Regions from separate parts of the Homo sapiens genome. Here region 2 is linked to region 1. The links come from fine-mapping of genetic effects on gene expression. A gene starts in region 1. The other region holds a variant in brackets. All regions are shown on one strand. Distances are from middle to middle. Region 1 holds the start of OLFM2 (olfactomedin 2). Region 2 overlaps OLFM2 (olfactomedin 2).

Region 1 (5,371 bases):
ACATGTTTTATCCCCAGTAGGGTTGAGACAGGAATGATCCAGGGTGGTCACAGGCAGCCGTTTCACATGACTAGAGGCTATGGGCTGATAAGATCCTGAAAACCAGGGTGTGGACCAAGCTGGCTAAGACCTACTGGACCCAACATGGCGTTACATTCTACCTAGGTTTCACCTAGGATCTCATTATGTACTCATTAAAATACTAAAATTACCCACCCACCAGCGCCCTTGACAATTCCAGGGACACCCAAATTTGGTGTAAAAGTGGGTGGCACCACAGTCCACCTTTTTCCAGTTTTCATGAATATTCCATCCCTTGGTTAAAGAGATACACAGTGGCCTGTTGTGGTGGCTCACGCCTGTAATCTCAGCACTTTGGGAGGCCAAGGCGGGTGGATCACGAGGTCAGGAGTTTGAGACCAGGCTGGCCAATATGGTGAAACCCTGTCTCTACTAAAAACACAAAAAATTAGCCGGCTGTGATGGCGCACACCTGTAATCCCAGCTACTCAGGAGGCTGAGGCAGGAGAATTGCTTGAACCTGGGAGGCAGAGGTTGCAGTGAGCCGAGATCACACCACTGCACTCCAGCCTGGGTGACAGAGCGAGACTTTGTCTCAAAAAAAAAAAAAAAAAAAAAAAAAAAGAGACACATAAAGGTAGCAGTCCCAAACCACCTTGCCCATCTCTCTCTCTTAAGTACGCCCACTCCCTTTTCTCAAGTGTGGACTTTTCCCTTAACAAAAAAATCTCCGAACTTTTCATGATTTTCTGATTCCTCCTTGAATTCATTCTTGCGATGGTGTTAAGAGCCTGGACACCAGCTGGGGTCGAGGCCCCACCAGCGTCTGGGGAGACCCCTCCTAGCCCAACAGTATCAGGGTCACAAAAATGCCAGGCTTCCTGGCCTCGCATATTTTATGCCCGATTTCTTTCCAATCTGACTTATTTGCCCGCCCCCCTCCTCCACCTCTGCCTACATATATCCGAATCCCTAGAGGGGCTGTGGGGAGGAAAGACGACTAGGGACACTTTTTTTTTTTTTTTTTTTTTGAGACAAGGTTTGCTCCTGTTGCCCAGGCTGGAGTGCAATGGCACGATCTCTGCTCACTGCAACCTCTGCCTCCCGGGTTCAAGCGATTCTCCTGTCTCAGCCTCCCGAGTAGCTGGGATTCCAGGCATGCACCACCACGCCCGGCTAATTTTTGTATGTTTTAGTAGAGGTGGGGTTTTGCCATGTTGGCCAGGCTGGTCTTGAACTCCTGACCTCAGATGATCCACCCTCCTCAGCCTCCCAAATTGCTGGAATTACAGGCGTGAGCCACCGCGCCCGGCCTAGGGAGACTTTTGGAGGAGTGAGAGGCAGAGAAAGGCTGGAAAGCCTCCCGAAAGTGAGGCTAGACAAGGACGCCCTTCATATGCAAATGGCTTCGCGTGGAGGCGGTGTTAATATTTTGATTCTCTCGGGGGATGTGGTCTTTCATCTTGGGCTATTGAAACAGGGAGCGAAGAGAAACTCTTCCAGGTGTGGCGGAGGCGGGGAGGCTTCCAGCGGGAGGACTGGTGGGGAAATGGGGCGCCCGGGGAGAGTGAAAACGAGACGCCCCTTTTTGAGGCCAAGCCCACCCACGTGGCCATTTCCATTGGCCTCTTGCCTGATTCTCGGTCTCCTGTCCCCCCAACCTCAATTTTTTCCTCTTATTCCCCGTCTCCATCTATGCCTCACCCCTCTTGTCCTGGCATTGACCCCTCCTCCAACTTCCAATTTCAGATTCTGCCTCAGTTTCCCTGTTGACTCTTGAGTTTTTAGGGAGGGGGCGTTCATCATTTCCCCTCTCTGCTACCAGGCCTTCCTCCTATTCCTCTCCCCCAACCATTCGTCCCCGTCCCACCTGCAACGTGGGAAATGCCCCCGGAGGGTGAAATTTACAAACACGTGACGGGCACCCCTCCCCCACCTCCGCGACCCGCTCCCGGAATGGCCTGGGGGTTGGGGGGCGCTGCCAAGTCCTGTCCTCAGGTCCCCTCGCCGGCGCTGGCTCCCCCACTTCCCCGCCCCCACCCCCCCACCCGACCCTGCTCGAGCTGCTCCCGAAGAGGAGCTGGGGGCGGGGCGGGGGGCGGAGCCCGCAACAAAGACTCGGAGCGAGCGAGGGGGCGGGGGTGGGGCGGAATCCCGGCCGCCGGCGAGGCGGGGGAGGCGGCGGCGCAGGGTCGCCCCGGCCGGGCGGGCGGGGTCGCGCCTGGTGGCGGTCCCCGCGCCGAGGCGCCGCTAGGGCGGGCGGGGGTCGGGACGCCGGGCTAGGGGCGCGTCATGTGGCCGCTCACGGTCCCGCCGCCGCTGCTGCTGCTGCTGTGCTCAGGCCTGGCCGGACAGGTAGGGGCCCGGCGGGCAGGTGCGGGCGCGGGTGGCTCCGGGAGAGGAGGGGGGCGCGGAGGGTTCCCGGAGAAACGGGGTTGGGAGGCTCCACAAGCCCCCCCAGCTGCAGGGCGGCGAGGGGCGGGGGTCGCAGCGGGGGAGGGGCCGGGACGTGCACTCTCTGGCTTGGGAGAGGACGAGGGGGGCTTCAAATCCAGCCTCAAGCTGGGCTGGTTTGGGGGGTGGCGTCTTTGGGGTTCTCAACCCCTCCATGGCCCCGAGCCCCCACCCCGCCATCTCGCTGGAGCTGAATGGGGTTGGGAGGGAAACTTCAGGGGGCATTGGAGGGGGGCGGTTGCTTACCCTTGACTTCCTCTTCGGGGCCGAGATGCCCAGTTTCTGAAGCCCTCCACTCCTCGCCTGCAGCCCCCAGTGTGGGGCAGGGGACGGGACTCACGTGAGAGTGACTGACGGGGACGCGTGTGAAATGCTGTGGGGGTGCAGGGTAAACGTGTGTGTCTTTGTGTCGTGGTTGGGTGTGACCGGGGGGAGTTTGTGTGTGTGGCGGTTGGGGGGCTTGTCCAACTAGTGCCCGAGTTGGGGTGTGATCAGTACGTGAGACAGAGTCTGTGTGTGACCGTGTCCTCATTACTGGCTCCAGATGACTGGGTGTTGTACAATACGTGTGTGGCCAGGTGTGTGGCCGTGTGAGAGCCTTGGAGTGAGCGTGTGCTATTCTGTACCTTTGGGTAAATCACTCTAAAAGGGTGTGTGTGTGTGCAAGCGCTGTGTGTGCAAACGTGTCCATCCATGCACGTGTGTGTGTGTATCTTGGTGCCTTGCTCACAACCGCACACGCCATTCATACCCTTACAGAAGCGGGTCTCCCTCCCCATGGCACCTTTCTCTTGGGCAGGCTCAGGGAGGCTTGCAAAATGTGGGGCGTCCACGCTCTCTTTTGCTATTGGAAAGCCCCTCTCCTCCTCCATCTTGGGAGTGAGAGCACCCCCAAGTTCTCAGATCTGTAGGAGTTCACAGGGAAGCTGGGATCAAAAATAATAAAATAGTCATTATGATAACAGTGATCATTCATTACGTGCTAATTTGAGAGGTGCTGTTTCAATCACACAGCACAGACTAAGGCATTTAACCCCCTCTGCCTCCTCCCTACTAGAGCATGGTATTGTTACCTCATTTTATGGATGGGGAAACTGAGGCGCAGAAAAGTTAAATCACTTGCTCAAGCTCGAGAGTGACAGAGGTGGGACTGAACCGAGGCAGTCCGGCTCCTGAGCCCACACGATTACCCTCTTGTTAAATAATCCGCTCCATGGGTGTGGACAGCGTCCGTGAAGACATTGCTAGGTGGGCTTTTAGGTAGATAGGCAGGGGAGAAACAATTTGGGCACCTTCCCCTTATCAAGAAAAGAATCAGACCCTTGTGCTCACCCCGAGGGGGGTGTTGGGAGGAATGGAGGTTAGACTCCAGATAGAAGGATTTCCAGGCCACGAGGAGAGATTGTGGGGTCCCCTCCCTCGCTCCTCCATTTCCCCACGCATCTCAGCACCCACGCGCTGGGTGGGATAGGGAGTGTGCCCAGCCCCAGGCATGAGGACACACACAATAGGTACTCAATGGATGTGTGAGCCTGAGAGAAGCCAAGAGACACACCTGGGAGACGAGAGACCAAAAGAGGCACACACTTGAGAAACCAGTGGAAAAAAAATGAGCCAGGAATCAAGTTGAATTATCCTTGACCTAGCAGAGGAGACAGAGAACCACCCCCTGTGGCTTCTCCTCCACTCCCTGCTAGGGGGGCACTAGATTTTCTGGCTTCTCACCAAGATTGGCTAGGATGCCAGAGTTTGCTGCCAGAATTGCAATTGGAGGGTGACTCCTACAGCCCCCAGGGCTGGGAGGGAGTTGCTTTGGGGGCGGGACTAACGAGGTCAGTGGAGGCGGGGCTAAAGGACAACGGGGGCGTGGCCAAATGAGGTAATCCGTTAGGGCGGGGCTGGTGGAATCCTGCCGCGGGCTGCAGTGCCTCCAGGCGGCCACCGCGGGAACTACATGGTTGTGAAACAGTCTCGGCGCCCCATACACCCCCTTGGCGTTGGCCCACCAAGCCTGGCACCCCAGGGAAGGGAGGGGTCTGCAGAGAGGATGCTCTACCCACTCTTCGCTCCCTCCATCACTTTCCAAAGACTTCTTCCCTGTCCCTGATGGGCCCAGGGGTCCTTCCTAGAAATCATTGGTTAATCCATTCAATGAACAGATATGATTATGCACTGGGGATACAGCCACCAACTGAGTCATCAAATCCCTGCTCTCCTGGAGTTGACCTAGCAGAGGAGACAGAAAAGAGCCGAATAACCATGTAATACGGTGTCGGCAACTAAATATACATATAATACAATGCAAGTAGCATGAAGAATAACAGATAAAGTATAGAAGATTAGACTGGAGCCGGGTGCTGTGGCTCACGCCTGTAATCCCAGCATTTTGGGAAGTTGAGGCAAGTGGATCGCCTGAGGTCAGGAGTTCGAGACCAGCCTGGCCAACATAGTGAAACCCTGTCTCTACTAAAAATACAAAAAATTAGCTGGGTGTGGTGGCAGGCGCCTGTAATCCCAGCTACTAGGGAGGCTGAGGCAGGAGAATTGCTTGAACCTGGGAGGCAGAGGTTGCGGTGAGCTGCGATCGCCATTGCACTCCAGCCTGGACAACAAGAGTGAAACTCTGTCTCAAAAAAAAAAAAAAAAAAAAAAGATTAGAGTGATAGCAGTCGGGCATGGAGGCTCACGCCTGTAATCCCAGCACTTTGGGAGGCCAGGGTGAGTGGATCACTTGAGGTCAGGAGTTTGAGACCAGCCCGGCCAACATGGTGAAACCCCGTCTCTACTAAAAATGCAAAAAATTAGCCAGGTGTGGTGTTGCACACCTGTAGTCCCAGCTATTCAGGAGGCTGAGGCAGGCGAATTGCTTGAACCTGGGAGGCAGAGGTTCCAGTGA
Region 2 (5,371 bases), 82 kb after region 1:
CAGTGACCTTCGGACTTCTAGTAGCTTCCATGGTCATGACTGCCCATCACTTAGACACACAAGAACCATCCATGAGGCTGGGCATGGTGGCTCATGCCTGTAATCCCAGCACTTTGGGAGGCTGAGGTGGGCGGATCACCTGAGGTCGGGAGTTCGAGACCAGCCTGACCAACATGGAGAAACCCTGTCTCTACTAAAAATACAAAATTAGCCGGACATGGTGGTGCATGCCTGTAATCCCAGCTACTCGGGAGGCTGAGGCAGGAGAATCACTTGAACCCTGGAGGCAGAGGTTGCAGTGAGCCAAGATCGCACCATTGCACTGCAGCCTGGGCAACACGAGTGAAACTCTGTCTCAAAACAAAACAAAACAAAAACAACAACAAATGCTAGTTAACATGATGACAACAATGATGTTGATGACACGCCTGGTCACCTCATGGTGACAGGGGTTAGTTAACCATGGCAGTGAATTCAAGTGATGTCTTATCATTCAATGGCTGTCCAGTGACCACTAACCACCCAATATTCAATGACCAGGGAATTCCTGGGCCCAGTGACTCCCCAGGGGCTGCAGTTCCCTGGGTCCTTTGGGATGGAGCATTGTCCACTTAGGGTCTGTTTTAAGATCAATAGTGGCCAGGTGCAGTGGCTCACGCCTGTAATCCCAGCACTTTAGGAGGCCGAGGCAGGCAGATCACTTGAGCTCAGGAGTTTGAGACTAGCCTGGGCAACATTGCGAGACCTTGTCTCTACTAAAGATACAATAAATAAGCTGGGCGTGGTGACTTGTGCCTGTAGTCCCTGCTATTCCGGGGGGCTGAGGTGAGAGGATTGCTTGAGCCTGGGAGGTCGAGGCTGCAGTGAGCCGTGATTGTGCCACTGCCCGCCAGCCTGGGAAAAACAGTGAGACTTTGTTTCAAAAGAAAAAAAAAGGCCAGGCGTGGTGGCTCATGCCTGTAATCCCAGCACTTTGGGAGGCTGAGACAGTGGATCACAAGGTCGGGAGTTTGAGACCAGCCTGACCAACATGGTGAAACCCCATCTCTACTAAAAATACAAAAATTAGCCGGGTGTGGTGGGATGCGCCTGTAATCCCAGCTACTCAGGAGGCTGAGGCAGGAGAATCACTTGAACCTGGGAGGCGGAGGTTGCAGTGAGCTGAGATCACGCCACTGTACTCCAGCCTGGGCAACAGAGAGGGACTCCATCTCAAAAAAAAAAAAAAAAATTACTTAAAAAAAAAAAAGACCAATAGCACTCACTGGGATTTGGGTCCTACTGGGGCCATGCAGTTCCCCAAGAAACTGCAGCCCCTGGGGACTCACTGGGCCCAGGAATTCCCTGGTCATTGGATATTGGGTGGTTAGTGGTCACTGGACAGCCATTGAGTGATAAGACGTCACTTGAATTCACTGCCCATGGTTAATGCTGTCACCAGGAGATGATCATGGTCACACTAGGGCCATAATTGGTAATGAATGGTCAACAGAGTTCCCATGACTAATGACCACTTAGTGACTGTTGAACTCTAATGGCTGTAGCTGGTGCTGGGACCCTTGGGTCGTTGGTGGTGGTTCCCCCCAGTGACCAGCGGCTGCTACCATAGGTCTGGTACATGGATGGCTATTACAAAGGCCGCCGGGTCCTGGAGTTCCGTACCCTGGGAGACTTCATCAAAGGCCAGAACTTTATCCAGCACCTGCTGCCCCAGCCGTGGGCGGGCACGGGCCACGTGGTGTACAACGGCTCCCTGTTCTATAACAAGTACCAGAGCAACGTGGTGGTCAAATACCACTTCCGCTCGCGCTCTGTGCTGGTGCAGAGGAGCCTCCCGGGCGCCGGTTACAACAACACCTTCCCCTACTCCTGGGGCGGCTTCTCCGACATGGACTTCATGGTGGACGAGAGCGGGCTCTGGGCTGTGTACACCACCAACCAGAACGCGGGCAACATCGTGGTCAGCCGGCTGGACCCGCACACCCTCGAGGTCATGCGGTCCTGGGACACCGGCTACCCCAAGCGCAGCGCTGGCGAGGCCTTCATGATCTGCGGTGTGCTCTACGTGACCAACTCCCACCTGGCTGGGGCCAAGGTCTACTTCGCCTATTTTACCAACACGTCCAGTTACGAGTACACGGACGTGCCCTTCCACAACCAGTATTCCCACATCTCGATGCTGGATTACAACCCCCGGGAGCGCGCCCTCTATACCTGGAACAACGGCCACCAGGTGCTCTACAATGTCACCCTGTTTCACGTCATCAGCACCTCTGGGGACCCCTGAGCCAATGCTGTGGCTCGGGCTGCTGCCTGGGGGGCCTCTGGGGGCTGGGGGCCCTTTTCATTCTGCCTGTGTCCCTCAAGGGTGATCTCTCTGTCTCTGTCACGCCCTTTCTCCCCGCCTTTTTGCTGGGCTTTTGTTCTCTGCCTATGTATTTCTGTCTATTTTTTCAATTTCCCCTCTTCTCCTTTATTGATCTCTGCTTTTAATACACCACTTCTTTCTTTCTGCCTTTTTATGGATGTCTTTTTCTTTTTATGGCTCTGGTTCTCCAGTTCTTTCCGTCTCTGCCTCTCTCTGTCTCTCTCTCTCTGTCCTTCCACCCCTCCCTCCTTGCTTCCCACCCATTCCTCATCCCTCACTCCCACCCCCACCCCCACCCCCAGGAGTTGAGTGCATGGATCTGTTTCTTTTTTTATTTACACTTTTTCTTTCCGGTTTGCCGGAATAAACAGGACCTTTGACATTTGACGCTTCGGTGACTGTGTGTGT[C/A]CAATGGCGACAGAGGTGGAGGTGGCCCCGAAGTCCAAGCCTGGAGACCCATCTCCAGTGAGGATCCCCTTATTCCATGACTCAAGCTTAAGCGAACTGGGGGGAAGGGGTTCCCCAGGGCCAGCCCTTTGGGGAGATGGGTGAGGAGACCCAATCCAAAGTTGTTTTGATCGAAAGCAATTCGTTTAAAAGCAGTTTGATCAAAACAACCGAGAATTCTAGCACAGCAATGAAAACTGGCCTCAAATGAGTATTCTCCCGTCACTGGATTGCCACTCTGCAATCACTGTTGATGCATTACTAAGAGGTCTGGAATTTTTTTTTTCTTTTTTTTTTTTTTGAGACAGTCTTGCTCTGTCACCCACGCTGGAGTGCAGTGGCATGATCTCAGCTCACTGCAACCTCCACCTCCCAGGTTCACACGATTCGCGTGCCTGAGCCTTCCGAGTAGCTGGGATTACAGGCACGCACCACCATGCCAGGCTAATTTTTGTGTTTTTAGTAGAGATGGGGGTTTTGCCATGTTGTCCAGGGTGGTCTTGAACTCCTGGGCTCAAGTGATCCGCTCCCCTCGGCCTTCCAAACTGCTGGGATTACAGGCGTGAGCCACTGAGCCCGGCCAGTCTGGCAATTTTTTAATGGGTTTTTAACAATCGAGCTGGCTTTTAAGAAGCTGAGTATGAAAGAGTAGGGCCCAGCTGAATTTTTCCATTTTCTTTTTTCTCTTGTTGCTTTGTAATTTCAAAAATCGTTTTTAGACAAGTCACATTTGTGCCGAGTAAACTAATCCCAAAAAAGCTAGAAACAGCCTTTTAAAGGGGCACTCAGGTGCCTTCAATTGAACACACTCATACCTCACACCTGGAGCCTGTTTGCCTGCAGGAGGGATTGGGCAGGGACAGCCCTTGATGGGGGACCAGAATTCTTGGAGGGGAAGGAGAGGAAAAGACAAGAAGTTTTGGAGGCAGGAAAGAAGAGTATGAGGGAGACAGGAAGGGACTGAACTAGGAGTAGGCTGGATGCAGCAGCTCATGCCTGTAATCTCAGCACTTTGGGAGACTGAGGGGGAAGGACTGCTTGAGCCCAGGAGTTCAAGACCAGCCTGGGCAACATAGCAAGACCTCGTCTCTAAAAAAATTTTACAAAATTAGCCAGGCATGGTGGCGTGCGCCTATAGTCCCAGCTACTCGGGAGGCTGAGGTGGGAGGATCTCTTGAACCCAAGAGTTCGAGGCTGCCATGAACCATGAGTGCCACTGCATTGCAGCCTGGGCCACAGAGTGAGACCTTGTCTCAATCTAAAAAATAAAAAAGGAGACGCTAAGTCCTCAGCAGCCTTAGAGATCTGGCTAAAGGCAGGGGAAGGGAAGTCACAGAAGGGGAAGAACCAGATGAGGGCTTTATACGAGCCAGGCCTGTCTGAAGGCCTGCATGAGGCAGACCTAAGGGGTGCAGCCAGGCTAGTTGGAAGGGGTACAAGAAAGGTGAGGAGCGTCACCCTTGGGGCTGAGGGACCAAGAATGAAGGTAGGGGGTGCTGCCCAGGTGATCCTGCCCCATGTTGACCCCAGTGGTTGGTCCCTATTGAATCCAGAGCAGAAACAATCATTTAAAGAGCCCTATTGGCCCAGACCGCCACCCTGCTGAGGCCACAAAGGGGGCACTCCCACTCCTCCTGGGGGAGGCTCTCCTCATCTCTAATTAATGGTTACCCTGATTAAATCATCTCCGCTCCGTGCTGGCATCTCCGGGAACTCGGATACCGGGGCCATATTGGGAACGAAACCAACGAATAATAAATGGGACTGCCTAATGTACTCATTTAAAACCAATTTTTAGAGAAATCCTCAAGAAAAGCAATTAATTTCCATTTAAGCGAATATGTTTGACATCGGAAAAAGGATTAATTCCCGGATTAGCATGTGGAGAGGCACTTTACCCTGTACCTGCTGAAGAAATGAAAAGCAGCACAAAGCCAGGACACCTAGAACATCTGTATCCCCCCCAACTCACATTTATTTGGAGGCAGAGAGTCTCCACAGTGAGGGGACGAGGTAGTTTATCGGCCTTAGATACTGGATTCTCCTAAAGTAAGGTGGAGAATTGAGGCTGCTGAGGTCCACAATCTGTGTCCACACTATGCTGAGTGCTGGGGAGCCACATCCTCACACCGAGATTAGGGCTGGGTGTGGGTGTGTCCATCACATCTGTATCAGGTCCTCAGAGAGATCACACACACACACACACACACACACACACACACACACACGCTCAGAGCTCCTTTTGAGTTTGTGGCTTTTGTTACAAACAAGGATGGGCAGGCAGACTAACATTTCCCAGGCCAGGATCAATCTGTGTGCGTCTTCGGCTATCCACTGCTAACTCACTGACTTCCCCTCTCATCATGGACGTGGGCACAGCGAAGCCAACTCCTGTCCTGGGGCAGTAATACCGTTTACCCCAAGGTGACCTGCTCCAGCTCTGCCCAGCGGCCACAGAAGCCAGGGGCACGTAGAGACTGACCCCCTGGGGCGGGTCTGGCCTGGGAGGTGCCTGTAAGTGGCACTAGGGAAGACTACACTGTCACCATCCTAAAG

What was found.
Region 2: its variant is fine-mapped to the expression of OLFM2 in whole blood (TOPMed, PIP above 0.99).

The regions. Positions count from the first base shown.
Region 1 is chr19:9,933,309-9,938,679 of GRCh38, reverse strand. OLFM2 (olfactomedin 2) reads left to right here and starts at 2,165. Exons shown (of 6, transcript NM_058164.4): 1 at 2,165-2,376. The coding sequence starts at 2,314. RefSeq lists enhancers at 1,146-1,648, 2,315-2,909.
Region 2 is chr19:9,851,102-9,856,472 of GRCh38, reverse strand. It overlaps OLFM2 (olfactomedin 2), which reads left to right. Exons shown (of 6, transcript NM_058164.4): 6 at 1,610-2,755. The coding sequence ends at 2,287. Among named protein-coding and RNA genes, the nearest start is that of PIN1, 18 kb to the right of the region's middle. The variant C/A (reference allele first, on the strand shown) is at 2,777.